Linked DNA regions of Homo sapiens. The protein of the gene in region 3 interacts with the protein of the main gene of each other region in a pairwise test. Each region holds a gene or a part of one and is shown on either strand. Other genes may lie near its edges.

Evidence for each region. Proteins that work in one complex are often made in the same cells at the same time.
Region 1: the proteins of NELFA (region 3) and CDK3 interact in binary tests that used the Homo sapiens proteins (3 or more experiments, as listed by UniProt).
Region 2: the proteins of NELFA (region 3) and PRR22 interact in a two-hybrid assay, tested with the Homo sapiens proteins (2 studies listed by BioGRID).

The regions. Positions count from the first base shown.
Region 1 is NC_000017.11:75,996,617-76,003,854, forward strand, and holds the start of CDK3 (cyclin-dependent kinase 3), read left to right. Parts: upstream 1-4,238; 5' UTR 4,239-4,351; exon of another isoform or gene 4,352-4,795; 5' UTR 4,796-4,809; coding exon 4,810-4,925; intron 4,926-5,257; coding exon 5,258-5,335; intron 5,336-5,405; coding exon 5,406-5,526; intron 5,527-5,631; coding exon 5,632-5,802; intron 5,803-5,894; coding exon 5,895-5,996; intron 5,997-6,578; coding exon 6,579-6,782; intron 6,783-7,238. Other genes in the region: CST complex subunit TEN1, read left to right, coding at 3,525-3,646. UniProt on the Homo sapiens protein: Serine/threonine-protein kinase that plays a critical role in the control of the eukaryotic cell cycle; involved in G0-G1 and G1-S cell cycle transitions. Interacts with CCNC/cyclin-C during interphase. Phosphorylates histone H1, ATF1, RB1 and CABLES1.
Region 2 is NC_000019.10:5,782,460-5,789,170, reverse strand, and holds PRR22 (proline-rich protein 22), read left to right. Parts: upstream 1-4,424; 5' UTR 4,425-4,510; coding exon 4,511-4,640; intron 4,641-4,731; coding exon 4,732-4,794; intron 4,795-5,117; coding exon 5,118-6,193; 3' UTR 6,194-6,211; downstream 6,212-6,711. Other genes in the region: DUS3L (tRNA-dihydrouridine(47) synthase [NAD(P)(+)]-like), read left to right, coding at 773-814, 995-1,147, 1,466-1,582, 1,810-1,875, 2,000-2,110, 2,326-2,422, 2,629-2,704, 3,380-3,568 and 2 more.
Region 3 is NC_000004.12:2,005,928-2,013,420, reverse strand, and holds the start of NELFA (negative elongation factor A), read left to right. Parts: upstream 1-4,446; 5' UTR 4,447-4,461; coding exon 4,462-4,671; intron 4,672-5,374; coding exon of another isoform or gene 5,375-5,458; intron 5,459-7,493. Other genes in the region: uncharacterized protein LOC124900839, read left to right, coding at 3,660-4,415. UniProt on the Homo sapiens protein: Essential component of the NELF complex, a complex that negatively regulates the elongation of transcription by RNA polymerase II.

The sequences.
Region 1 (7,238 bases), on a different chromosome or scaffold from region 3:
GAGGATCACTTGAGCCAGGGAGGCAGAGATTGCAGTGAGCTGAGACTGTACCACTGTACTGCAGCCTGGGTGACAGAGTGAGACCCTGTCAAAAAAAAAAAAAAAAAGAGAGAGAGAAAGAAAGAAAAAGAAAGAAAAGAAAAGAAAGAGAAAAGAGAAGAGAAAGGGAGGGAGGGAAACCTTCCTGTGTGTCCCCTGTGCACCTCCCTCTTCGAGCATCCTTACAGCTCTGGGACTTGCCCAAACCTTTCTCCCCAAACCACACACCCACAGAGTCTGGAGCAGGGCCGGAGTTTCCCCGGCTCCTCGGGTGTGTCAGCATCACACATCCCTCCCTGTCTCCCTGCTGCCAACCAGTTCCACCACTGTGCACCTCTGCCCCAATTCCACCTCCCACGCCTGCTGCTGCACCTTGGACTTGTTTTCCTGAAATTGCATGCCATCCACTCTCCCTTCTACTTCTGCTGCGTCCCTCTTGCCCTATCAGGACCTGTGGACTCAGGACTCCCGGGCTTTCTCCCCCATCTCTCTTCCCCGTTGGGCCTCACTACCATTTCAGCCACTTTCCTGGCAGCTTCACTCCTGCCCCAAGACCCCAGCCTCCACCCTCCTGGTTCTGCCAACTGTTGAGTGCAGAAAGATCACAGAACTCCAAGGATTTGGAGCTCAATGATTTCAGGGGCTCACTGGCATTCCCCTGCTCTGCCTAGAAATCCTTCCTGTGTCCTGGCCACACCCCCCTCCCCGGCGCCACCACAGCTAGTCCAGAAATTCCCCTGCCTCACAAGAACCCACTTCCTCTCCTCCCCTGTCCCTCCCGGCTTATTGCTTTATGAGCCAGCTAGAATCGAGGCCACAGGCAGCCGTTCTTCCTCCTACCATCAGACACTGAAACGGCCACCGACCATCAGACACTGAAACGGCCACCGTTAGCTCCTTCCTCTAGTCTAAGAGGAAGCGGGGTCCCTCCTACCTAAGGGGTTACCACAGTTCTTCCCTGTCCACATATAAGGTGTTCAAGCCTCCTCTATATGGAAATAATAGTCTCAATGACAAGAAGTCATCTTCTACACTAGAGTCTGACCTACCTGCCCATGACCTTCCCTCCCTTTGCAGACAAACCTCCTAAAAGAACATCTGTGCTCCGTATAACCCCTTCCTCTTCCCAGGCCTCACCCCACTGCATTCTGACTGCTTTTTATAACCCAGGCCCTTCTTCTTTGCTCCAGGTTCTTAATCTTTTTTTTTTTTTCCTGAGATGGAGTCTCGCTCTGTCACCCAGGCTGGGAGTGCAGTGGCACGATCTCTGCTTACTGCAACCTCTGCTTCCTGGGTTCAAGCGATTCTGCCTCAGCCTCCCTAGTAGCTGGGATTACAGGTGCCCGCCACCACACCCAGCTAATTTTTGTCTTTTTAGTAGAGACAGGGTTTCACCATGTTGGCCAGGCTGGTCTTCAGCTCCTGACCTCAGGTGATCCGCCTGCGTCAGCCTCCCAGAGTGCTGGGATTACAGATGTGAGCCACTGCGCCTGGCCTTTTTCCTTTTTTTTTCCTTTTTTTTTTTTTTTTGAGACAGAGTCTCATTCTGTTTCCCAGGCTGGAGTGCAGTGGCGCAATCTTGGCTCACTGCGACATCCACCTCCCCGGTTCAAGTGATTCTCGTGCCTCAGCCTCCCAAGTAGTCGGGCCTGGGTAACTTTTGTATTTTTAGTAGAGACAGGGTTTTCGCTTGTTGGCCAGGCTGGTCTTGAGCTCCTGGCCTCAAGTGATCTGCTTGTCTTGCCCTCCCAAAGTGTTGGGATTACAGTGTTGGGAGCCACCGCGCCACGCCCCGATTCCTCTCTGACCTGTGTCAGCACTGGGGCTAACAGAAGCTGAGACACACAGGCAACCTCATGTTTCAAATGAGTTCATTGCCTAAGGGTAGCCTGTATAGACAGCTAGGCAGGATGACACCCTGAATTCTGCCCTCAGGCTGTGCTATAAATGACCTAGACTAGAGGAAAGGGCAGGCAGAGCCTTTATCTCAAACAGCGTCAAAAGAAAACAATGTAATAGCCTAGAACATTGAATCTATTTATTTACTTATTTTGAGACAGAGTCTCACTCTGTTGCCCAGGCTGGAGTGCAGTGGCTTGATCTCGGCTCACTGCAACGTCTGCCTCCCAGGTTCAAGCGATTCTCCTGCCTCAGCCTCCCGAGTAGCTGGGTTTACAGGTGCCAGCTACCACACCTGGCTAATTTTTGTATTTTTAGTAGAGACGGGGTTTTGCCGTGTTGGCCAAGCTGGTCATGAACTCCTGACCTCAGGTGATCCACCCATCTCGGAAATCTATTTATTAAAGTGCTCAGAGAGCAGAAAGAGCATGAGTGCAAAAAATTTTTTTAACTTTTTTTTTTCTCTTGCAAGCTATGACTGGGGAAAAAAGAAAGAAAAAAAAAATGTCAGCAATGCACAGTGGCTCACGCCTATAATCCATGCATGTTGGGAGGCCGAGGCGGGCAGATCACTTGACCCCAGGAGTTTGAAACCAGCCTGGGCAACATGGCGAGACCCCATCTCTACAAGAAATACAAAAATTAGCTGGGTGTGGTGGTGCGTCCCTGTAGTCCCAGCTCCTCAGGAAGCTGAGATGATCACCTGAGCCTGGGAGGTGGAGGCTACATTGAGCCATGATTGAGCCACTGCATTCCAGCCCAAGTGACAGAGCAACACCCTGTCTCAAAAAAAAAATTTTTTTTTTTAGGTGGAGTCTTGCTCTGTTGCCCAGGCTGGAGTGCAGTGGCGTGATCTTGGCTCACTGCAACCTCCACCTCCTGGGTTCAAGCAATTCTCCTGCCTCAGCCTTCCAAGTAGCTGGGATTACAGGCATGCACCACTACACGCGGCTAATTTTTGTATTTTTAGTAGAGATGGGGTTTCATCATGTTGGCCAGGCTGGTCTTGAACTCCTGACCTCAAGTGTTCCACATGCCTTGGCCTCCCAAAGTGCTGAGATTACAGGTGTGAGCCAGTTCACCTGTCAAAAGAAAGAAAATTTTTAAAAAGTCTCTCGGAGATGTCTTTCCTGTTTGGTGCCACCTGAATAGTGGCAAACCTTTCCATTATGTATCAGGTCACCACCGCATCTGCTAGAAGCCCCCCTCGTCCAGGGTGGGATGACCTGCTCCTATAAAGCCAAACTTACCGGGAGCTCAGTCTCTTGGATTTTTAAAATATGGGTGTCTCTTTTCCCCGGTTCCTGATGACATTGTGTCCCAAGGTGCCAAGGGGGCCTTTCCCTCAGTCCAGAGGGGTTTTCTGACCACCTGCTAAGTTCCAGACACGGGCCGACTGTGCATGACAGGCCCACGGTTCTAGGCCCAAATACTCAGTTGCCTTTGCCCCATATGCTGTTATTGTCCACATCACTTGCTGCCAAAACCCAGGACTGAGCTGTGGAGGGAACAGCTGGAATGCACCTTGGAGGACGTTGTTGACACGCCGCTCAGTCGCCGTTCGTGCCCTGGTGTTTGTCTTGCAGACAGAGGCTCCGTGGTGAAGGCGCGCGTGCTGACCTGTGTGGAGGGGATGAACCTGCCCTTGTTGGAACAAGCCATCCGGGAGCAGAGACTGTACAAGCAGGAGCGGGGCGGCAGCCAGTAGGAAACAGCAGCCTAGCAACACCCTCACCTGCTTCAGAGCCCGAACCCTCTGGAGCTGCAGGAGCCCGGGAGAGCACAGACGCCTCCCCAGCGACGGCCTTGTCTGGAGCTCGAAAGCCGAGGGGCGGGTGATGAATCCAGCCCCTTCCCCTACTTTGGGATTGGCTCAGCAATGAGAACCCAGAAAGCATGCCATAAATCCGACAGCCCCACCCCAGGAGACTGCAGGTGGCCGAGCTTGGGCGCCGGGGCCGTGCTTGGTGTGGGGCCATGGAGGGTTCCAGAAGGTCCTGGTGAATAAAGGCCCAGGGGGCGTGCTCTTGAAGTGTGCTCGTGGTGCAGCGCCGGCGGGGGCCAGGAGGGGGAGCTGCAACCCAGGCTGTGGGCTGCAGCCTCTCAGGGCTTCTGGTGAATTCTGGGCCTGGGGCCTCAGGGTAGGGCACCAGGGGCCCAGGGGCTGGGGTGGGGGGCCCAGGATGCAGGGGTCTGCCCCTGGCCAGGCTCTGCCTTCAGAGGAGGCTGAGCGTCGTCACACGGGCCGGGCTGAGGCCCTGGGCCCTGACCGTGCAGCCTAAGACAGGACTGTGGCTTTAAGACCCTCCTGACCCCTGACCTCTGCCCCCAGTGGCCCTGGCCCCTGGGCAGCCCTTCCTGGCCGCCATGTGTACCCAGAGCCTGGGACTGGCTGGGCTGGGCAGTGACCCAGGTGGGAAAGGGTGGTCTTGCCCTCTAAGGCCCGGCACAAGTGAGAGGCCTGGGGGTCCATGTTGGGCTGGGCTGGGCGAGGGGTGGTCTCTGACTTCCTGGGGGTTCTGGCTGGGATGGGCAGGGGGCTGGGTGGGAGAGTGTGGGCCCTGCCCTCCGAGGCCGGGCATGGGCGAGAAGCCTGGGGGTCCTGGCTGAACTGGGCTGGGTGAAGGGGGCCCCCTGACCCCCTTGGGGTCCGGGCTGGGCTGGGTGAGGGGCGGTTTCCGACCCCCAGCCAGGTTCCCAGGCAGGATGAGCTGGGGTTGGGGTGGCTAGGCCGTGGGCCTTGGGAGCTGGGCAGTCTGGGCTGGGCTGGGCTGGGCAGGGCGCCACATGGAAGCTGGAGGAGCAACGGGAGCGCTGGGCGTGGGGTGCAAATTGCCCGGTGCCTTCTGTTTCCCAGGCAGCTCTGTGGCCATGGATATGTTCCAGAAGGTAGAGAAGATCGGAGAGGGCACCTATGGGGTGGTGTACAAGGCCAAGAACAGGGAGACAGGGCAGCTGGTGGCCCTGAAGAAGATCAGACTGGATTTGTGAGTGCTGGGACGGCCCCTGAGTTACCCACCCTGGGCCATCACAACCTGGGCGCTCCCTGATCCGTTCCCTCTTTCCTGGAGTCCACGTTTAACTCCTCTGGGTGCTGCCCAGCAGCCCTTACCTGTCCTCTCCCCAGTTCACTGCCTTCTGACCAGCCTTTGCCGGGGCCCTGACTGTGGAGTTTGGTGGATGACGTGCCAAGGAGCACAGGTCTCCATTGCCGGGGCCCTGGTCATTCTGTGGGGTTAAGGAGAAGCCGATCCCCCTGGCTGGAAGTGCCCTTCTTGGCCCAAGTCTCTGCCCACGGCTGTGCCCTTGTTTCTTGCAGGGAGATGGAGGGGGTCCCAAGCACTGCCATCAGGGAGATCTCGCTGCTCAAGGAACTGAAGCACCCCAACATCGTCCGGTGAGTTGGGGATTGAGGTGGGGAAGCTGGGATGGCGAAGGTAGCATCCTGACTGCCATCTCCCTGTCAGACTGCTGGACGTGGTGCACAACGAGAGGAAGCTCTATCTGGTGTTTGAGTTCCTCAGCCAGGACCTGAAGAAGTACATGGACTCCACCCCAGGCTCAGAGCTCCCCCTGCACCTCATCAAGGTAGGGAAGGAAGGGCAGGGAAGGAGAGGTGACACCCCATCCCTGCCATCCCTGTCCACGCAGCACCTCCGCTCAGCTGGCTGCACCTCGCGCTCGTTTCTCCAGAGCTACCTCTTCCAGCTGCTGCAGGGGGTGAGTTTCTGCCACTCACATCGGGTCATCCACCGAGACCTGAAGCCCCAGAACCTGCTCATCAATGAGTTGGGTGCCATCAAGCTGGCTGACTTCGGCCTGGCTCGCGCCTTCGGGGTGCCCCTGCGCACCTACACCCATGAGGTATTGTGAGACAAAGAGGAGAGAGGGGCAGCAGGAGGAGTGTCACCCATGCACTCAGCCACCCTGAGTGATACTGTTTCTTTGCCCTGCAGGTGGTGACACTGTGGTATCGCGCCCCCGAGATTCTCTTGGGCAGCAAGTTCTATACCACAGCTGTGGATATCTGGAGCATTGGTTGCATCTTTGCAGAGATGGTAGAGAGAGGGGCACACATGGCCACAGGGTGCCACAGGCAGGGTCCTACTGGGGTTGGGTGGGGTCCACTGATGCTCCCATTCGAGGCGGATTAAAGAGTGTTTGGGGCTGGACATGGCTCACGCCCGTAATCCCAGCACTTTGGGAGGCTGAGATGGGAGGATGGCTTGAGCCCAGGAGTTTGAGACCAGCCTGGGCAACGTAACAAATCCCCAGCTCTTAAAAAACTACAAAAATTAGCTGGGTGTGGTGGTGCATGCTTGTAGTCCCAGCTACTTGGGAGGTTGAGGCAGGAGGATTGCTTGAGCCTGTGGTTGAGGCTGCAGTGAGCTGTGATCGCACGACTGCACTCTAGCCTGGGTGACAGAGCAAGACTCCGTCTCTATTTTTTAAAAAAAGGTGTTTGGTACTGGCTAAAGGACTGAGGAAGGTAGCTTTATTCCAAAAGAGGCCAGAATTCTTTGCACAGTCATGGAAAAGATATCTTGACAGGCCTCTCCCTGGGTCTGGCCACTTATCTGGTATTGGATTCTGTATAACAAAGTGGCGGACCCCACACCTTCTCTTCTTCCCCATTTCAGGTGACTCGAAAAGCCCTGTTTCCTGGTGACTCTGAGATTGACCAGCTCTTTCGTATCTTTCGTATGCTGGGGACACCCAGCGAAGACACATGGCCCGGGGTCACCCAGCTGCCTGACTATAAGGGCAGCTTCCCTAAGTGGACCAGGAAGGGACTGGAAGAGATTGTGCCCAATCTGGAGCCAGAGGGCAGGGACCTGCTCATGGTAGGTGCATGTGGGCTCCAGCTGCTGCTCCGACTACAGTTTCCCCTCATCAGCCAGCCTCTTACATAACCCTGGCACTTTCTGAGTCCAAGGCCAGGGTCTCTTTCCTGACCTTTGTACACAACTGGCTTGGGTATACTGATTGTTCAACCCGGAAGCCTCCCCCAGGATAAGTGCAGTATTTATCTTCCCTGTGAAAGTGGCGCTCATTGAGTTAGCTCTGTCTTTATGCTGTGCTACACGCCCTTTTTCCCTAGTTGTCTTGTGTGTTTGGTTATTCTACTTTGTGGACATTACTGCTCCATCTAAGCTGTATGCCTCCCCAGGCTGGGGCCATACCTTCTTTTCTTTTCTTTTTTTTGAGATGGAGTTTTGCTCTTGTTGCCCGGGCTGGAGTGCAATGGCGTGATCTCAGCTCACTGCAACTTCTGCCTCCTGGGTTCAAGTCATTCTCCT
Region 2 (6,711 bases), on a different chromosome or scaffold from region 3:
CATCTGGTGTGCGTCTATTAAATACCAGCTGTGTCCACGTTCCTGTTCTAGCTGCCTGGGAGTCAGAGGCTGTGTGCCTTGAGGGAGCTCCTGGCTGAGTCTCCCTCTCTGTGCTCTGTCCTGGGCCCAGCCCTCAGGAGGTGGGGACAGAAAGAGCTGGACAGGGCCGGGGGCGGTGGCTCACGCCTGTAATCCCAGCACTTTGGGAGGCTGAGGCAGGCAGATCATTTGAAGTCGGGAGTTCAAAACCAGCCTAGCCATCATGGTGAAACCCTATCTCTACTAAAAATACAAAAATTAGCCGGGCCTGGTGGCGGGCACCTGTAATTCCAGCCACTCAGGAGGCTGAGGCAGGAGAATCACTTGAACCCAGGAGGCGGATGTTGCAGTGAGCCAAGATTGTGCCACCGCACTCCAGCCTGGGCAACAGAGCAAGACTCTATCTCAAAAAAAAAAAAAAAAAAAGAGCTGGACACACTCTAAGTCTCAGAGGGTCAGGGTCGGGCAGCGGGGGACAAATGTGGGAGGCTTCCTGGAAGAGGGGGCATTGGGACTGGGTTTGGATGGTTAAGTAGAAGCTCTCCAGTGGAGGAGACGATGAGGAAAGGAACATTCCTGATGAAGGGATTGATTGGCACATGCAGAGGCCCAGCAAAGGAGCCAGACCATTTGGGCCAAGTGTGTCCTAGACTGTGGGTAGAAGGGAGGCTCCAGGGCCTCAGCAGCTGGGGTGGAGGCCAAGCTCCACTTGTGTGTATTTTTTTCCCTCCAGCTGGACATCCGTGGCAAACTTTACCTGGCCCCCCTCACCACGGTAGGACCTGGGTCAGGTGGCTGGTCGGGTGGCAGGGTGGCAGTGTGGTCATTCCAACAGGGCTTAGTGTCTGTCCCCACCTACTGGATTGTGGGGCTGGGGCGCATATTCAGGGTTCTGCTGTGTGTGTGTGTGTGTGCGCGTGCAAGAGCATGTGTGTCTGTCCTGCTCCCCCCGCAGTGTGGGAACCTGCCCTTCCGACGGATCTGCAAGCGCTTCGGGGCGGATGTGACATGTGGAGAGATGGCCGTCTGCACCAACCTGCTGCAGGGCCAGATGTCCGAGTGGGCCCTACTCAAACGCCACCAGTGTGAGGACATCTTTGGCGTCCAGGTCAGTGCCCACCCCGAGGGAGGGAGAGTGGAGGGGCCCTCGGCCGTCCTGTCTCAGAGCCAGGTTCCAGGTCTGCCCTGGTTGCCTCCCTGACCCCCTGGCCTCAGCTGTGGAGTGGGGGTGATGCCCTGATCCACCTCTGGGGGCTGATGGCCGTGGCCGGGGACCGGTGCCTCGCAGACAGACCTTGGCTCCTTCCGGGGAGGCCCCGAGAGAGGAGGCCACTGGCTCAGGGCCCCCCAGTGGGGAGGGAACGGCCAAGTGGGGACAGTTCGGACTCTCCCCTCACCCTCCTGTTCTGCCACTACCCACCTACAGCTGGAGGGCGCCTTCCCCGACACCATGACCAAGTGTGCCGAGCTGCTGAGCCGCACCGTGGAGGTGGACTTTGTGGACATCAACGTCGGCTGCCCCATCGACCTCGTGTACAAGAAGGTAGCGGCCCTGGACGTGTGCCTCGGTTTCCCCATCTGGGCAGGGAGGCACTGACCCAGCCGGCGATGTCTCGGTGGAGGGTCAGGGGTTTGGGCTCAAGTGTGGCCCTGGAGTCCCTGCCTTTCCTGCAGGTCGGCGTCTCCTGGTGGGGGCCTCCGGGCAGCAGGGGTGAGGGGTCTTGGGTCAGCCCACGTCCTGCCCTCCCTCCACCCGCCTGTCTCTTCCAGGGTGGGGGCTGTGCCCTCATGAATCGCTCCACCAAGTTCCAGCAGATCGTCCGTGGCATGAACCAGGTACGGCCAGCCACATCCTCGCACTGGCTCCCAAACAACTCCCCCGGGCCCTGTCTCCCACCACCTCCCACCGTCTCCCACCACCTCCCACCATCTCCCACCACCTCCCACCACCGTCCTGTAGGTGCTGGATGTGCCGCTGACTGTGAAGATCCGCACAGGCGTCCAGGAGCGTGTGAACCTGGCGCACCGCCTGCTGCCCGAGCTGCGGGACTGGGGCGTGGCACTCGTCACGGTGGGTCTTGGGACGCCTCGGGCATTGGGGCCTCGCGGTCGACCCCGCGTCCCTTCCTAATGGCTCCTCTCCTCCCATCCCTCCCTCTTCACCTCCACACCTCCCTCTGTCTCCGCCTGTGTCTCTCTCTGTCTCTCTCAGCCTGGCTCTCTTGGTCTCTTCCTCTCTGCGTCTCACTCTCTGCCTCCTACCCTGCGTGGCGGCTTCTCCCCCAGCTCCACGGCCGCTCTCGGGAGCAGCGCTACACCAAGCTAGCCGACTGGCAGTACATCGAGGAGTGCGTGCAGGCCGCCAGCCCCATGCCCCTGTTCGGTGGGTGTTCCGGGAAGCCACCTCCCTCTCCCCTACCACCCTTGGTCACTCACACCTCTGGGCTGTTCGCCTTCCCACTTGGGACCCCCTCGTACCACCCTGATGGGAGCCACTGGGTCAGCCAAAACTCCTGAAGGGCTGGTGAGCAGAACTCCAGGGTCCCACCTGCCCATGTCTCCCTGAGACCCCAGCCTCTGTCTCCTCAGGAAATGGGGACATCTTGTCATTTGAGGATGCCAACCGCGCCATGCAGACTGGTGTCACCGGGATCATGATTGCCCGGTAAGTGCCCAGGGATGTTAGAGATCCAGCTTCATGCACAGCAGCAGTGCCCTGAACCCAACACGCCGTCACCCACCCCTGTTCTGTGGTGGGCTGTTGGTCCCAAGATGGGAGGAGCAGAGAGCGATGTCAGGAGTTGCAGCTGCGTTGCGGCAGAGGGGACTGGAAATTGCTGCTGCTGTGGGATCTGATGATTGTGGGTTGAAAGTCCTGGGCTTTGGCCAGGTGTGTGGCTCACGCCTGTAATCCCAGCACTTTGGGAGGCCAAGGCACGCCGATCATTTGAGGTCGGAGGTTCAAGACTAGCCTGACCAACATGGTGAAACATCTCTATTAAAAATACAAAAATTAGCCAGGTGTAGTGGTACACGCCTGTAATCCCAACTACTAGGGAGGCTGAGGCAGGACAATTGCCTGAACCTGGGAGACGGAGGTTGAACAGTGAGCCGAGATCTTACCACTGCACCCCAGCCTGGGCGACAGAGCCAGACTCCGTCTCAGAAAAAACAAAAGAAAGTCCTGTGCTTTGAAGGTTGTGTGCATGCAGCTGGGAGGCTTACTAGGCTTGTAGGTTTTGTGGTCTGGGCTCCGGCTCAGGCCAGGCCATGGAAGCAGAGGCCACACGATCCCAGGCAGGCTGGTGGCTGGGCCCACTGATCGTCACCCGTCCCACAGTGGCGCCCTGCTCAAGCCGTGGCTCTTCACGGAGATCAAGGAGCAGCGGCACTGGGACATCTCGTCGTCCGAGCGCCTGGACATCCTGCGGGACTTCACCAACTACGGCCTGGAGCACTGGGGCTCGGACACGCAGGGCGTGGAGAAGACCCGGCGCTTTCTGCTCGAGTGGCTGTCCTTCCTGTGCCGGTGGGCACCGGGGCTGGCTGGGGTGGGCGGCGCGTGGGCCGCGGCTGGTTAGAGCTGACTCAAGCCTGTCCTGCCCGCCCACCCGCCGCAGGTACGTGCCCGTGGGGCTGCTGGAGCGGCTCCCACAGAGGATCAACGAGCGGCCGCCCTACTACCTGGGCCGCGACTACCTGGAGACGCTGATGGCCAGCCAGAAGGCAGCCGACTGGATCCGCATCAGGTGCCTGGGTGGGCTGGAGTTGGGGAGCTGCAGTCGGGGGCCCGGGGTCACGGAGGGTACTTTGCAGGTCCTGGGCCTGACCTCGCTTTCCACCTGCTCTCCCACAGCGAGATGCTCCTTGGGCCAGTGCCCCCCAGCTTCGCCTTCTTGCCGAAGCACAAGGCCAACGCGTACAAGTAGCCTCAGGCTTTCCCAGGGGCACCCTGGGGCGAGGAGAGTACAATAAATTTTATTCTTTTAAAATCCAGGCCTTTCTGTGACCCTGAAGCAGCCCCTCCTCGGCCCCCACCTTCCCCAAACCTCTTAGCTGCCTCCATGGGCCCTGCCCCAAGCTGGGTGCTGCTGGTGCCCAGAGAGGCCTTGACCCCCAAGAAGGTAGCGGGTTGAGGACCCGGGGGGCCTCAGCCTGTGTGGGTGTGGATCAGGGCAGCCTGCCTGGAGGAGGCGGCCTCAAAGCTGTTAGGGGGGTGTTGCTGGAAGAGGCAAAGGCCTGGCCCAGAATCCTCCCTCCCATGGTGATGACCATGTCTGCCAACGTCTGCCCCTGCTTGCCCCCAACACCCAGAACCCCAACCAGTGGGCGCGCTGCAGGCTGGAACCCGCTGCCCCGAGTAACCAGGCAAACAGAACCCCACCAGGTTCTCAGCCTGTTCTCCGGTTGGGCCACTTGCACTCCCACTGCCGCCCTCCTGGCCTGTCTGGACCGGGCCCCCCGCTGCCCCATGCAGCACCCCAAACCGTTCTGTGCCCCTGCAGCTCCCCAGGAAGGTTTCAGCCCGCAGAGTCTGGAGGGGGCTGAGGTGCTGGGCAACCAGCCTGCTCCCACCTGTGCCGAGCCTCCTCCCGCTATGGGTACGATCGGGTGGGTGGGAGCACCTGCTGGAGAGGGTTCAGGGGCCCACCCGCCTAAGGGCCCTACCCACCTGGGCACCTTTGTCCACAGGCTCCTTGAACCTGTATCATCCCCCAGACCCAGAGAAAGAGGTGTTTCCAGCCCCACCAGCAGGTACCGGCCTCCCCTGAGCCCTTGACGAGGCTGGGAGTGGGTTTGAGTGTGCAGGCCCATCTTGCCCCTGCCCCGTCCCTAAGTGGGAGCCTGAAGGCATGGCCTCTGCTCCCCATGCTTCACACAGGTCCCCCAGATGAGCCCCAAAGACAAGCTCTGTGTCATCCATCACCCAGCCAGGGCCCCAAAGCAATATCTATGTCGTCCCCCAAAGGGGCCCCCCAATGGCAAGGTTCTTGTGGCATCTCCCAAACAGGCCCCCAGGCTTGGGCTGGGCCCCTCAGGCAGCAGCTGCTCTCAGGGCACCCGCCTGCCGCCCACAGGTTTCCAGATGGCCCCATGCGGGTGCTTCTTCGACCCCCGCATCTATCGGATCGAGTGGACCACCCCCGACCTGGGCCAGTCAGCCCTGTATAAGCTGGCAGCAAGCAGCGGGGGGCCAGCGGGGGTCCCCTCCGCCCCAGGCAGCTACCTCCTGGAGCCTCAGCCCTACCTCAAGGCCCCGGGGCTGCCTCCATACCCCCACTACCAGCAGGCACCCGGGGGGCCCCAGTTTCTCTTGCCCTACTTCCCGCCTGAGGGCCCCGGGCCAGAGGCTCTGGGTTTTGTGGGGGACGCAGGGCCCGCCGCCTTCGTGGAGCTGCCCCTACCGCCCCTAGAGGAAGGCCCGGCCCCGCTGCCACCCCCACCCCCCAAGGAGAACAAGCCGCCCCCTGTACTCATCACGCTGCCTGCAGAGCCCACACTGCCCCCAGACGCCTACAGCCACCTCCAGGGTCACCTCGGCCACTTCCCTGGGCCCGAACCCCTGGCCTTCCCCGTCAAGGAGCTGCAGGGCAGTGGGGCCCGACCTGGGGTGCCCCTGTACCCACCGGGCCTCAGCGAGCTCAAGGTGGCCGAGGTCAAGGAGGGGGCCCTGCTGGGAGCAGGCAAGGCCAAGGCCCCCAAGACGGCCAGAGCTTTGGCACTGCCTGACAAGGTTCTGCTGGAGGACGCCATGAAGCTCTTCGACTGCCTGCCAGGCGCCTCTGAGCCTGAGGGTACCCTGTGCGAGGTCCCTGGGCCGGCCCTGCCTGACAGCAGTGGTGGGAACTCAGCCGATGACATCCGCTCGCTGTGCCTGCCCGAGGAGCTGCTGTCCTTTGACTACAGCGTGCCTGAGATCCTGGACACCGTGTCCAACGTTGACTACTTCTTCAACTTCAAGGCGCTCGACGAGGAGCAGCCGCCCCACCCGGGGCCCCCTGCCACCAACACCCCGGCCCCCATTCTGTCTGGCAAGAGAAAGGCCTCGACGGCCAAGAAGGGAAAGCCGGGAAGGAAGGCCAGGCAGCCGGCAGGCCCAGCCAGCGCCACTCCCCCGGGGCCCAGGGAGGACCTGGGAGCCACCCCGCATTAAAGCACATTTGACCTTTCAGCTCCATGTCCACGTGGGGGCCTTGGGGATGGGGAGGGGGCTGGAGATGCACGCCTGGCCCCTCACCCCATCATCCCGCGGACTGGCAAGGCAGCGCCCCCGGCCTCACAGTGAGGCCTCTTAGCAGGGGAGCCCCGGAATCACAGGACACCCTAAACTCCTTGAGTCCCAGCCCTGGAACATCAGACTCCTCTGGCAGAGGCAGGGGCCTCCTGGGGCACGAGGGAGCTGACCCCCAGACTCAACGCGTTCTAAGGGTTTTCACCCCTTTGTTTGGTGGGGGAAAGCAAGGCTGCCCAGAGCAGCAGGAACTTCCTTGGAGACACACAGCCATCAGGGCAGGGCTTGAGGAGCATCCTCCAGATCCCCACCCAGCTGCCTCCTGTCCCCAGGAAGCCACAGCCACTGCAGGCAGGGCGGGAAGGGCCACGCTCTTGTTCAGACAGACAGGTGGGTGCAGGGGCTTCACCTGATGGTCTGAGGGTGGGGGCTGGGGCAGG
Region 3 (7,493 bases):
ATGGAAAGCCAATCAAAATACCACTAGGGTTTTTTTTTAGAAATTCAGTAAAGTTGTAAAATTTATTGCTTTAAAGTAAAAATAAGGACTTTTTTTTTCCCTTTGGTCGCCCAGGCTGGAGTGCAATGGCACGATCTCAACTCACTGCAACCTTCGCCTCCCGGGTTCAAGCAATTCCCCTGCCTCAGCCTCCCAAGTAGCTGGGATTACAGGCGCCTGCCACCACGTCCAGCTAATTTTTGTATTTTTAGTAGAGACGGGGTTTTACCATGTTGGCCAGGCTGGTCTCGATTTTGAGATGGAGTTTCCCTCTTGTTGCCCAGGCTGGAGTGCAATGGCACGATCTCCGCTAACTACAACCTCCGCCTCCTGGTTTCAAGCGATTCTCCTGCCTCAGCCTCCTGGGTAGCTGGAATTACAAGCGCCTGCCACCACGCCCAGCTAATTTTTTGTATTTTTAGTAGAGATGGGGTTTCACCATGTTGGCCAGGCTGGTCTCGAACTCCTGACCTCAGGTGACCCGCCTGCCTCAGCCTCTCAAAGTGCTGGGATTATAGATGTGAGCCACCATGCCCAGCCAAAATAAGGACTCTTTATGTTGCAGAGTCAGGCAAATAAATTAGAAAAAAAGATAAAACTGCCTTCACAAATGGCATGATTGTCTTTGCAGAAAACTAATACAATGTATGAAAAAACTACTGGAACAAATAAATGCGTTTAGCCAGGCTGCAGGATACAAAATCAACACACAAAAATCTGTTGTATTTCTATATACTGGCGACAAACACTGATAAATTAAAAATTTTAAACAACACCCTTTACAACCACATCAAGGTTATGCAATACTTGGAGGCAATTCTGAAAAGATGTGCAAGACCCTTACATTGAACACTACAAAATGGGGCTGAGAAAATTTATTTTTTAATTTATTTTTAATTTTTTAGAGACAGAGTCCCACCATGTGGCTCAGGCTGGTCTTGAACTCCTGAGCTCAAGTGATCCTCCCACCTCAACCTCCTAAGTAGCTGGGACTACAGGCGCACCACCAGCCCAGCTTTTTATATTTGTTGTAGAGATGGGGTTTCGCCACGTTACTGAGGCTGGTTTCCAACTCCTGGGCTCAAGCAATCCACCCTCCTCGGCCTCCCAAAGTGCTGGGATTACATAGCCATGAGCCTAGCTGAGAGAATTTAAAGACCCAAATAAACAGAGAGAAATACTATGTTCACTAGACAGAAGTTACCAGTTCTCCCTCAACTGACCTACAGATTCAACACAATTCCACTCAAAATGCCAGAAGCCTTTTTTTTTTTTTGTAGAAATTGACAAACGATTCTAAAATTTATATGGAAATGCAGGCTGGGCACTGTGGCTCACCTGTAATCCCAGCACTTTGGAAGGCTGAGGTGGGTGGATCACTTGCGGTCAGGAGTTCTAGACCAGCCTGGCCAACAGGGTGAAACCCCGTCTCTACTGAAAATACAAAAATTAGCCAGGTTTGGTGGTGCATGCCTGTATTCCCAGCTACTTGCAAGGCTGAGCCATGAGAATTACTTGAACGCAGGAGGTAGAGGCTGAAGCAAGCTGAGATTGCATCACTGCACTCCAGCTTGGGCAACAGAGCCAGACCTTGCCTCAAAAAAAAAAAAAAAAAAAAAAAAAAAAAAGGAAATACAGAGGACCTAAAATAACCCAAATAACTTTAAAAAAAAAAAAGTCAGAGAATTAACACTACCTGATTTCAACACTTATTTTAGAAAGCTATAGTAACCAAGACAGTCTGGTATTGGCATAAAGATAGATGAGTAAGTCAGGATAGAAAAGTCCAGAAAGGATCGTCATTTCGACAAATAATATGGGAACAACTGGATACCATGTTTTAAAATGAAAAAAACTTTGGCTTTCTAATTTTGCAATCTGATAGGTGTAATGAGGCATCTTGTTATTTTAATTTGGGTTTGTCAGGTTGCTGATGAATTTAAGCATCTCTCCATGTGCTTCTCCGGTATTTGGGTTTCTCCTACGAATTGCTTTTTTTTTTTTTTTTTTTTTTGAGACAGAGTCTCGCTCTGTGGCCCACGCCTGAGTTCAGTGGTGTGATTTCCGCTCCCTCCAACCTCTGCCTCCTGGGTTCAAGCGATTCTCCTGCCTCAGCCTCCTGAGTAGCTGGGATGACAGGCATGAACCACCACGCCCCACTGTTTTCGTATTTTTAGTAGAAACGGGGTTTCACTATGATGGCCAGGCTGTGAATTGCCTATTCTTATCTTCTGCACATTTGTCTATTGTCGGTCTTTTTCTCGTCGATTTACAAGCATTCCTTTTTTCATTCTGAATATTAATCCATTGCTTTCTGATGCTGTAACTAAGTCCTCCTAGTGGTTTGTCTTCTTGGTTAAGCCAGATGTTAACTTGGATTTTTCCTGCATAAAACTGAAGACTCAAGATGCATCAAGCACTGTATACAGAAAAGTGCTGCGTATCCTACAGAAAGCTACAGACAGTTGGGGGTCAGAATCATTCGGATTGTTTCAAGTTTGGGGCTATTATAAATAAAGCTGCTATAAACGTTTGCACACAGGTTTCTGTGAACAAAAATTTTCATTTCAACCAACTAATGTTTACGGTTCAATCATGATTTCACAACTTGAAGTAACTTTCACTCTTCTCATACTAAATTTGATATGTCGTCCACTGTTAAACTATTTCTTACCCTCAGATTATAATTATTAAACTTTTTTTTTTTTTTTTGAGAGGGAGTTTTGCTCTTGTGGCCCAGGCTGGAGTGCAATGGCAAAATCTCGGCTCACCGCAGACTCCGCCTCCCGGGTTCAAGCCATTCTCCTGCCTCAGCCTCCCGAGTAGCTGGGCTTACAGGCAAGCCATGCGCCACCAAGCCCGGCTAGTTTTGTATTTTTAGTAGAGACGAGGTTTCTCCATGCTGGCCAGGCTGGTCTCGAACTCCCGACCTCAGGTGATCCGCCCGCCTTGGCCTCCCAAAGTGCTGGGATTACAGGCGTGAGCCACCGTGACCGGCCTAATCATTAAACTTCTTTCAGCACTAGCCCCACTGATGTCACAACTTCACCCATTAGTCAATAACTTGTCTTTGCTGAATTCGACACTTTTGAATCATTTAAAAAATATTCTCTTAAATTTTATGTGCTATTTGCAATGTAACGGTTGTCGACATGACAGTTTTAAGTTTAATCTTTATCATCAACATTTTCTCTATCACTTTCTTCAGTTTAAGCAATCAACAAAACCACCGCTCCAGCACTGATTTGTAGCATTTGCGGGTTTCCCCCGTGTGACTTCCGCAGGACTGCCAAGTTCAAGCCGCCAGGGCCAGGGCACTGCTAGCAGCTGGGCTGAGCCCTGTTCTCCCGGCGTTCCCACCGCCCAGTGGCAATAGCTGTGAACGGCGGCAGGAGCATGGCAGTGGAACAATAAGGAAAAGATCTTTTAAAAAAAAGATATAATACAGAAGCCAAGCAAGGCGGCCCCGACCTGTAACCCCAGCACTCTGGGAGGCAGAGGCGGGCGGGCGGATCGCTTGAGCCCAGGAGTTTGAGACCAGCCTGGCCAACATAGGAAGGCCTCGTCAAAAAGACAAAAGGGTAAAACGAATTTAATAAAATGAAGTTTAACTTTTACTCATGTTTGTATCTAATGACAAGCTTTTAAAACTGAAAAGTTCACTACTGGCTCCTGCCTGGCGGCTCCAGCCCGACTGGGGGCCGGGGCCTCCCTGCACTGTGGGGTCACGAGTGCCCCTGGACAGCTCCCGAGCGCCCTCCGACCCGCATGCTCAGCGCAGCCCCGTCGGCGGCGCGCCACGGGCAGAGCGGGCTCAGCGGGGGACGGAAGCTCAGCGCTGCGACCGGGATCCCGCAGGCTCGCTCCGCAGGGCCGCGGCTCCTCTCCGTGCAGGTGCTGGGCCCGCGGGGGCGGGGCGTCCACACGGTCCGCGCCGAGACCCAAGCGGGGAAAAAGCGAAGAGCGGACAGCGGGGCAGGTGCCACAGGGAGCCTCCGCCCCACCGCGCGAGCAGCAAGTCTGCGGCGCTTGACACCTGCACTGCGAATGCCAGGCCGCAGCCCGGGCTCCCAAGACGCGAATACGCGCGCCTGCTCGTGACGTCATTTTTTGCGGTCTTCCCGAGAGCCAGCAGAGGGCGCCGCCATGATGTTTTACGGAAGCCGATAGTCCTTGCTCAGCGGCACCCCGTCCTTCCGGCTCTCGGCTTTGCCACAAAGCTTCCCGAAGACGCGGCCGCTACCCGGAGACGCGGTCGCCACCCAGAAGCGCTCTCCCGGGAAGCCCCGCTCGTGGGACCGCGCCACCTGCGCCGCCTCTGCGGCCCGCAGCCCGACGGGCGCCGCCATGTTGGGGTCCTAGCGAGGGACGCGTAGGTGTCTTCATAAGATGCCGGGGCAGCGGCGCGCGCTTTCCCCCAAGATGGCGTCCATGCGGGAGAGCGACACGGGCCTGTGGCTGCACAACAAGCTGGGGGCCACGGACGAGCTGTGGGCGCCGCCCAGCATCGCGTCCCTGCTCACGGCCGCGGTCATCGACAACATCCGTCTCTGCTTCCATGGCCTCTCGTCGGCAGTGAAGCTCAAGTTGCTACTCGGGACGCTGCACCTCCCGCGCCGCACGGTGGACGAGGTAAGGCAGGCGTGGCGCCCCGCGGCCCCCAGATTCCCAACCTTCCCACCTCCGACCCGCACACCCAACTCCGGACCCTCCTCGCTCCCTCCCCCAACCTTCCCATCCCCCTTCAGACTGTTAACCCCCCCGGCCCGCCCTCACGCCCCCTCCTCGCTCCTCCGAATACCTCCCTCCAGTCCTCACCTCCCCCTGGGTCCTCATCCCCCGCCTCGATCCTCATCTCCCACCTCGGTTCTCATCCCCACCGTGGGTCTTCAGGACCCCCCGCCCCTCCTCGCCCCCTGGGAATCCCCCACTAGGGTCCTCACCTCCCTACTTTTCGTCCTCACCCCTACCCAAGTTTTCACCTCCCCTGGGATCCTCAATCTCCTCCCCGCCGGGCCCCGGGTTCTCGCTACGACCCCCAGGTCCTCACTCCCCTCCCTGGGCCCCCGGGTACTCATCCCCACCCGCCCCCGCCTCCCCCGCCTTCGGTCCTCACCACCCTAATCCCCCACCGTGCCGAAGCGACCGACTCTTGGAGCGGGGGTGCGCCGGCCCCAGCGGGGTCTCCCATCGGGGTTTCCCGTCGGGGACGCAGCCCTGGTGACCTGGGCGAGGGCGGGGATCCCGAGAGAAACCCCCGCGTGAGGAAGGGGCGGCCTGGGCTCGGTAGCTCCAGTGTCCGCTGACTGGATTTTCTTGTTCTCACCTCGCAAAGACCCCGGCCGTCCGGAGCGCTCTGTGTCCGTTTTACTCTTTTCTACACGCCGTTTTGCGTCATTCCAATAAGTGGGTGTGTGAGGTTTGTTTTCTTTTTTCCTAAACTTTATATTGTATCGCTTTCCGTGCGAAATAAACCGAGTAGTTTTGCAGACTATTGAAGCCCCATGGTTGTTTAAACGTTCCTGGCTACTGATGTATTATTAGCTATTATAGGTTGTAATTGCTTTTGATTGAGATATGACATGTATGGAAAAGTGCATTTTTGTTCAGTTTAACGAATAATAATAGCATCGCGAGCCACTCCTGTGATCCTTACACAGGTGGAGAAGTAGAACCATGCCTGTTCCTTGGAAGCCTCCCACTGGTAATCACGGCCTTCTTCCTTTCCCCTTCCTCATTTTGGAAAGGTAATCATTTCTGTGCCATCTCCCCGGTGTGAGCAATTATTTATGCACCCCTAAATGGCACAGCTTGGTTGCCGGATTTGGAGTTAGTGTGATGGTATCATAGTGTATTTTGTGTGTGGCGTGCATGTGTCTTTTTGGTCGACGCCGTGACAGTTTCATCCACGTTGCAGCTGACTGCAGTTTAATTTTCACTGCTGCGTGGTATTCCTGTCTGTGAGCACGAGGCACTTTATCCATTCTGCCACAGTGACACGCTTAGCTTTTGTGCTCTTGTAAATCATCCCGTTACTACATTACGGTCATATGTTCAGGTGTTTGGAATCTTGGATTTCTCTAGGGTATAACATCTAGGAGTGGAATTGTGAGGATCATAGGATCATGCCAAATTATTTTTCAGAGTGTTTTGTTTTTGTGTTTGTGTTTTGTTTGAGACAGGGTCTGGCGCTGTCAACCAGGCTGGAGTGCAGTGGCACCATCGTGACTCACTGCAGCCTTGACCTCCTCACCTCAGATCTTCCCATCTCAGCCTCCTGAGTAGCTGGGACTACAGGGTTTCACCATGCTGCCCAGGCTGGTCTTGAACTCCTGACCTCAAGCAATCTGCTTGCCTCAGCCTCCTGAAGGGCTGGGATTACAGGTGTGAGCCATGGCACTCGGCCTGCTGTTTGGTTTTCTGCTTTGAGAATTGTATATTCAAATCTGCTTTTAAATTCTCTTTTTTCCCATTGTTTTGTAAGAGTGTCTTTTTTATTATTTATTATAAATGCTAGATATCAGTCCTTTTTCAGTTACAAATATCTCCCAGTTGTCCTTTGACTTTGACTTAGCTTCCTGGAATCCTTTTTTTTTTTTTTTTTTTTTTTTTTGAGACAGCGTCTCACTCTGTCACCCAGGCTAGAGTCTAGTGGTATAATCATAGCTCACTTTAACCTTGAACTCCTGGGCTTAAGCAGTCCTCCCTCCTAAACCTCTGTAGTAGCTGGGACTGATGCGCTGCCACCACGCCTGGCTAATTTTTGTGCATGTGTATGGAGATGGGGGTCTTACTGTATTGCCCAGGCTGGTCTTGAACTCCTAGCCTCAAGTGATCCTCCTGCCTTGGCCTCCCATAGTGTTGGGATTACAGGTGTGATCTGTGCGCCCAGCCCTTTTCCTGGAATCATGGATGAATAGAAGCTCCTAGTTTTAACATAGATGGTGTATTCATCCGCCCACTATCATTGGTGCCTATTGTGTCTCCCCGAGGGACATGCCCGGAACACTCCCTGGGTTATCTTGGCGTAGCTGTACAGTTTTACCTTTCGCACTTGAATCTTCAGTCTGCGTGGAATTGATGATTGTGTGAAGCAGGGAGTCTAATTTTCCACATGGATGTGCAATTAGTCCAGCACCCAACGTTGATTGAAATGACTGTCCTTTTCCATTGATCTGCACTGCAGCTTCTGCTGTGGATGTGTTTCTGGGCTGTGCTCTGTTCTTTTGGTCATTTACATATCGATGTGCTAATAACCCACTAAGTCGGTTCTTGTCACTTTATTTATAAGCCTTGTTAGCGGACGGAGCAAACCCTCCCACTGTATCTTTCTCCGGGATCATCTATGGCTATTCTTGTCCCTTCACACTTCCACATGTATCTTATATACTTACTTCTTAAACACGTAGAGCCTGCCTGCTGGGATTTTAAGGCTGAGCTGAACTTGCAGTTCA